Linked DNA regions of Homo sapiens. The protein of the gene in region 2 purifies or fractionates together with the protein of the main gene of each other region. This does not show direct contact. Each region holds a gene or a part of one and is shown on either strand. Other genes may lie near its edges.

Evidence for each region. The genes of interacting proteins can lie anywhere in the genome.
Region 1: the proteins of GTSE1 (region 2) and CALU purify together in Homo sapiens (affinity purification with mass spectrometry; one large-scale study listed by BioGRID and IntAct). This does not show direct contact.

What each region holds. Positions count from the first base shown.
Region 1 is NC_000007.14:128,759,815-128,763,470, forward strand, and holds part of CALU (calumenin isoform a precursor), read left to right. Parts: coding exon 1-38; intron 39-3,656. UniProt on the Homo sapiens protein: Involved in regulation of vitamin K-dependent carboxylation of multiple N-terminal glutamate residues. Seems to inhibit gamma-carboxylase GGCX. Binds 7 calcium ions with a low affinity.
Region 2 is NC_000022.11:46,317,309-46,320,964, reverse strand, and holds part of GTSE1 (G2 and S phase-expressed protein 1), read right to left. Parts: exon of another isoform or gene 3,102-3,656; intron 1-3,101. UniProt on the Homo sapiens protein: May be involved in p53-induced cell cycle arrest in G2/M phase by interfering with microtubule rearrangements that are required to enter mitosis. Overexpression delays G2/M phase progression.

The DNA of each region.
Region 1 (3,656 bases), on a different chromosome or scaffold from region 2:
GAATGCTGATGGTTTCATTGATCTAGAAGAGTATATTGGTAAGTCTCTGCTTTTAGTGTTTTTCTTAGAAAAGCTGAGAAGCTTTGAAAGGTGTATTTGCTGGCTGGGCACAGTGGCTCATGCCTGTAATCCCAACACTGGGAGGCCGAGGCGGGCAGATCACCTGAGGTCAGGAGTCCAAGTCCAGCCTGGCCAACATGGGGAAACCCCGTCTCTACTAAAAATACAAAAAAATTAGTTGGGTGTGGTGGCGGGCGCCTGTAATCCCAGCTACTCAGGAGGCTGAGGCAGAAGAATCGCTTGAACCCAGGAGGCGGAGGTTGCAGTGAGCCGAGAACACGCCATTGCACTCCAGCCTGGGCAACAAGAGTGAAACTGTCTCAAAAAAAGAAAGAAAGAAAGATGTATTTGCCCATAGAAACAATTTACTCCAAGGGTCAATTCTCACTAGCTCATTAGCTGTCACCAGATCATTAACCAGACCAGTGTGATAGTGGGTTGTGATAAAGTATCCGTAGCCACATTGCCCAATCAAAATATAAATGTGAGCCCCATATGTAATTTTAACTTTTCTAATAGCCACATTAAAAAGTAAAAAGAAACAGATGAAATTTCAGTAGTTATTTAACCTAATATTCTAAAACTCTATAATTTCCACTTAATGTAAATTATTGAGGGTTTTTTTTTAATACTTAAAGCACATCCCAGCCACATTTCAAGTGCTTAATAAGCACCTGTGGCTACCATCCTCAACAGCACAGATATAGTGTATCCTGCATGCTCTATGGAACTGATGGTAAAGAGTTGCAGGGGGCTGGGCACGGTGGCTCACGCCTGTAATCCCAGCACTTTGGGAGGCCGAGGCGGGCGGATCACAAGGTCAGGAGATCGAGACCATCCTGGCTAACACAGTGAAACCCTGTCTCTACTAAAAATACAAAAAATTAGCCGGGTGTAGTGGCAGGCGCCTGTAGTCCCAGCTACTGGGGACGCTGAGGCAGGAGAATGGCATGAACCCAGGAGGCAGAGCTTGCAGTAAGCTGAGATCATGCCACTGCACTCCAGCCGGGGCTACAGAGCGAGACTCCGTCTCAAACAAACAAACAAAAAAAAGAGTTGCAGGGAGCCCAGACTGACATAGGGAAACCCAGGGAAAGGAGATAGGGAATAGATTAAAAGATGGATAAATAAATGACGGGGAGTTGCTGATCCCTCTTGTAGCCATTCCTTTTTACTGTGTTCTGTTCATATTTTCTCTCTGATTCTCTGACTACTTTCCTTTTGTTTTTTAAGTTTCTCCCTTTTGACATTTCCCTTTTTAGTTGTCTAAATTTTTTTAAAAAAATTGTTTTGGATGTCACACCTTCAAGGCTAATTTCTCCCAAGTAAAGCTCTGTTTTATTATCATCAGACTAATTTTAAGATATTCTCATTGCTTTAAAAAAAAAAAGCTGTCTTTCTTACCAAGTAGTTGAGCAAATTGTTTCCCAATTACTGTGACAGAAATTAAAATGAGTAAAGGAGCTGGGTGTGGTGGCATACCCGGTTACTTGGGAGGCTGAGGCAGGAGGATCACTTGAGTCCAAGAGTCTGGACTATAGTCACAAGTTCATCATCAATATGGTGACCTCCTGGGAGCAGAGGATCACCAGGTTGCCTAAGGAGGAGTGAACCGGCCCGGGACAGAATCAGAGCAGGTCAAAACTGTGCTGATTAGTAGTGAGGTTGTGCCTGTGGATAGCAATTGTACTCCAACCTGAGCAACATAGCGAGACTCCATCTCTTTAGAAAAGTGAGTAAAGATGGAAAGTATAAGACTGTTACTACAAATGTCATTGTTACAAATACTTTGTTTAGAAAGATATTAGATATTTTAATATTTCACATACTTATTGTCATTTGTAATAACTTATTCTAGCACACCATTGGTTTTGTGTTTCAGATAAGCCCGTTTGTTTTTAGACCTCTGATAGTTACCTGAAATGTTTATTTGAAGCCTGAAAGGAAGACTTAATCCTTACCTCTATCACCTGTCATTAAACTGTATGGAGCAAGTCACTGCTTTACTTAGATGTTGTCTTATCATACCTGTTGTTTACATGCTAGAGTTATTCCAATTGAATTACTCCTTGACTGTTTACCTCCCTTTTCTTAGGTTCAGTGGCATACTTTGAACTTTTTAAAGAAGGATGAGCAATGGAAGATAGGATGGATGTTTTCCTAAACTGATTTTTTTTTTTTTTGGAGAAGTTTATCAGGACAGTGGATAAGTGCCTAGGTGCATTTACTGAGCCCACGTTGATGTTACTAGGGTTTTCTACTTTTAAATGATTTATCTTTTTATTCTTGGCTTTTGCCATTTTATTGCCATTGCTAAAACTGAGGAACTCATTTGAACCTCCCAAGGAGAGGAATTTTTATAACTGTTAACTACATCACTTATCAAGCATTGAGGCCAAATAAGGAGATATTTCTGTCTCCCTGTGTATCATATAGATTCAAGGGCAGAGGAGTTATATTTTGAAGCTACCAAAACTATCTTGTGCATGTGTGCTTTTTTTTTTTTTTTTTACAAGTCAGTAACTAATGCAAACACTTTTACATCTGGGATGCTGGGCTTTGTAAATCTAAAATTCTCCCAAACAGTATCTTTCAGCTTCTAGTGCCCTGTTGAAGGAGATCATGAAGAAACAAAGTTCTTCGCCTCATAAATTTAGCATTAAAAAGAAGCCCCATCAGTGCCTGTGGAAACATAGGGAAAGAAAAAAAAAAACACCCAAAGTTGTGCTGATAATTATTTTTATTTTTAAAATTTATTATAGAGCATTGCAGACGTACACAACTTATTTGTTTATTTATTTATGTTTTTTTTGAGACAGTCTTGCTCTGTCACCCAGGCTGGAGTGCAGTGGCGTGATCTCCACTCACTACAATCTCTGCCTCCCAGGTTCAGGCGATTCTTGTGCCTCAGCCTCCTGAGTAGTTGGGATTACAGGCATGCACCACCACACCTGGCTAATTTTTGTATTTTTAATAGAGGCGGGGTTTCACCATGTTGGCCAGGGTGATCTTGAACTCCTGGCCTCAAGTGATCTGACCACCTTAGCCTCCCAAAGTGCTGGGATTACAAGTGTGAGCCACTGCACCTGCCCCCAAATTAGAATAGTATAATGAATCCCCATGTACCTATGCCTAACCTCAACAACAATCAACTTACAGCCAGTTTTTTCTCAGCCACATCCACTTCCTTGCTTCCTTCTTACTTTGAAGTAAATCCCAATCATTATGTCATTTCATCTGTAAACATTGAGGTATATATGTCTAAAATATATATGTGTTTCTAAAAACATTTTTTTAAAGATAATGTCAACCCAAGAAAATTAATAATACCTTCAAATCATCAAATAGACTGAGTCTTTTAAAAATAGAAATTCGGCCGAGCATGGTGGCTCATGCCTGTAATCCCAACACTTTGGGAGGCTGAGGTGGGCGGATCACAAGGTCAGGAGTTAGACACCAGCCTGACCAACCTGGTGAAACCCCGTCTCTACTAAAAATATAAAAATTAGCCAGGTGTGGTGGCATGTGCCTGTGTAATCCCAGCTACTCAGGAGGCTGAGGCAGGAGAATCGCTTGAACCCAGGAGGCGGAGGTTG
Region 2 (3,656 bases):
CCTCAGCTGGGTGGAGCGCACTCTTCAGCAGCTTCCATGGTGGCACGGGAAGGTCATTCTTATGAAACAGAACACGAACAAGCCATCTCCTGACACCCTCACGACTGCCCTAGGGCTGCCTGAGCACGCACGCCTCCCAGGCCCACATCAGCTCTTCCCTAAACCTGGACGGCGCGTCTCCACTGCAGCTCCCAGTACCGGGGAGGCAAAGCCCACAGCCAGAATTCCAAGTCTCAATCCTCTGGGTGACCCGGCAGCATGGACTCATAGTAAATAGCAACATTTGTAACTGGACTGTTTTACAAAGAATGCTGCTTGCCTCGAGTATTTTGAGAAAGTGCACATATGAAAGCCTCCACTACAGGGCACCGTTCATGTGGTCCCACGCTGTGAGTGCCCTCAGCCCTCACCTCTCCTCCACGGTGACAGCTGGTGTCACAGCCAATGAGCAACACCACCAGTGCTCTCAGCCAAAAAGTGCACACCACCACGTGCCTCCCAGAGCTGTGTGTTCCCAACAGCGTGGCTGCTCCCCTGGGGCCTCTCTTCCGGCCAGTGCTGAGTTTGTGGGACCAGTTTTGACCCTGATGAATGACCAAAGGCGTGCAAGAGACAGTCCTGTTCCCAGCATTGTGGAGAGAGGAGGAACCGCCTGCCGAAGGTGAAATGCACATCTGAGAGGTGCGTAAGGAGACCGCAGGGACACGCTCTGGGAAACAGGGCAAAGCCAACAGGGATTTGGGATTAGCAGAAGTCCTGTGGCATCAAGCAGCCCGACAGCCAGGAGACCAGCCAACACTTGTGCCAACGTGGTCAGGAGAGACATGGCAGACGCATGTCCTGGCTCCAGGCATTCAGGCAGAAGGGAAGCAAACACTACTGAACACACCTCCACATGACCTGGGCCGTAGGGTGTCCCTGCAGAACCCACCCAATCACAGCTCGCATTTCTTTTCTTTCTTTCTTTCTTTTTTTTTTTTTTGAGACAGTCTCGTTCTGTCGCCCAGGCTGGAGTGCAGTGACACCATCTCGGCTCACTACAACCTCTGCCTCCTGGCTCAAGTGATTCTCCTGCCTCAGCTTCCCAAGTAGCTGGGATTACAGGCATGCGCCACCATGCCTGGCTAATTTTTCTATTTTTAGTAGAGACAGGGTTTCACCATGTTGACCAGGCTGCTCTCGAACTCCTGACCTCAGGTGATCTGCTCACCTCGGCCTCCCAAAGTGCTAGGATTACAGGAGTTAGCCACCGTGCCCAGCTCACAGCTCCCATCTCTACAAACTCAGCTCTCTGCTGTTGAAACCTACACTGAGGTCTCCAGCTGTGGCTTCTCCTCTGAGCTCTCAGCCTGCTCCACCCCTCAGCTGCAGCCTAAGTGGCCTCTCACCCTCACTACTTCCAAAATGGGGCCGTGGACTCTGCCCGCTGCCTCTTCCAGCCCTCCTGTCACATGAGTGGCAGCACCCAGGTTCCGCCAGAACCTCAGGGACACTCGAGTCCCTCTCTGCACTGCCACATGAGCCCTAAGCTACCAGAACGTCAGGCAGACCGCAGCGCTCCAGCCTCCTTCCCCAGCACTAGCTTCCTCCCCAACACAGTGAGGGCCAGGTCCGCATTACCCTCCCCACCACTCTTCGGCCCAGAGACTCTGCTCTTCCCTCTGTGGAGGGACCTTCTGAAGGTCAAGTCGCTCTGCTCTGATCTCTCCTATGCACGTCCTCCTGCACTGACGGTACTCCAGGGTCCGCTCTGGTCACGCGGCGCTCTGGGAGCCGGCCTCGGGCTGCCCCTCCATCTTCATCTCTTCTTACCCTGCCCCTCGGTCACTGACTGGCTGAGGTTGCTAGTTTTTGTTCAACAGCAACTTTCCTCTTCTCAGTAAGAAATTTCAGCTGTGTGCGGAATAAAGACAACGTGTCCTAGCATCCTGTGCAGGGAAGCGTCGTACTCAATGGGACACAAACGGAGTCACAGGGACAACTTGCAGTGAGGGTCCTTGAAAGGTGGGGATTTGCTCTTCTTCACCTAGAAGAAGGCTTCCTGCCGGGAGGTATGAGGGCCAGAGCCGGTGCAGCCACACTAGACCATGAGGATGAGAAGCTCATCACGGCAGCACAGGATGGAGTAAGCCTGGGTCCCTGACACCAAGGAGTACTGACCAGCTGTCGCACGTCTACGCAGAATCCCGACCGCAGCGGCTGCACTCCCACCCTCCGGCCCCCATGCTGCTCCCAGAGCACGTCCCACGCCTTCCTGCCCCAGGACCTCTGCACTCCTGCCGTTGCCTCTGCCTGGAGTGCTCCCCCTTGCACTTTCCTACCGGCTGCCTCAGTCTCCTGGTTCAGATCTCAGTCCCGTGTCACCTCCTGACCATCTTTGCCAAAGAACCACCCGATGCAAATTCCTCCCCAAACATGCCAGCTCCAGGACACCATCTTCCCTTAGTCCCTTTGTTGTGCTAGGATCTGCAGGCCTGCTCATCTGATAACATTTCGTATCTTTTCCTATTAAACAGAAATTCTGTGAGAGTAGGTCTGTCTTATCATGATGTCCCTTGTCCCCCAAAGCATTCCAGCACAGAGAAGACACTCAGCAGAACAGCTTGTTCCTACAGCAGGACTCAGAATGCAGTTTCTGGGAGTTGCAGGCTGCCTGTGCTGGCCGGCACTGCCAGAACTTAAAATCCTCAAGCACCCAGAGGGCAGATCTGCCTGACAGAGGAGGCCAGGACGCTCCTCTCACCTTAAGTCAGCTCTGAGAACTTTCTGCATTGCACACAATTGTTCAAGAAATTCATGAAAACTTTACAAACACCCACCCACTAATGGCCAGACACCTGCTGGGGCCAGTGGCCTCACTGACTGGAGAAGGCAGTGGCTGGAGCTCAGGAGGCTGAGGTGGCTGCAATCTGAGGGCCAGAAACTAGAGAGGAGGGGGCTACTCCGACAGAACGAGCTCTAGGAACCCAAGGGAATCTCGAGTCTCTGGCTGAGCACCAGGCAGTGCACAGGTGCAGGGCAGGAGTCCTCAAGGTCAAGAGAAGAGCAACTACCAGGGAGCAACGAGCGGAGCTCACAGGGCCGAGAAACCGCCGTCTTACCAGGGAGCAACGAGCGGAGCTCACAGGGCCGAGAAGGTGTCATCTTGCAGCAGCAGGAGTGCAGGGGTCTCGCGGGCCTTGCGGGACACACGGGTGTGCAGCAGAGGCCTTGGGAAGGACGCCGGTGGCGGGAGGCGGAAAGGCTATGCTAGACCCACCACTTCAAAGCATAAAAAGCCTCGGAAGGATGATCTGCACCTTAACTGCCTGCCAAGCCCAACCCAACTCCTCAGAGAAAGACAACAAAATCCAGACATTCAAAAGTGTACACCTGACAATATCCAACAACCAAGAAAAACTTGTGAAAAATGTAGAGGCAGGAAAATGAGGCCAAAACCCGGAAACAAAATTAGTCAGTCGAAACAGACCCCAAAATGATGGGGAAGATGGTATGAGAAGAATCGTAGACCCTAAAACCATTATCAATTTGCTCACGAGGATGTAAAAGAAAACCCAAGTACCATGAGAAGAAATAAGGGGAAACTATTATGTTAGAAACAAAGTTAACTGGATGGGCTTCACAGCTGTTAGGCACTGCAGAAGAAATGATATCTG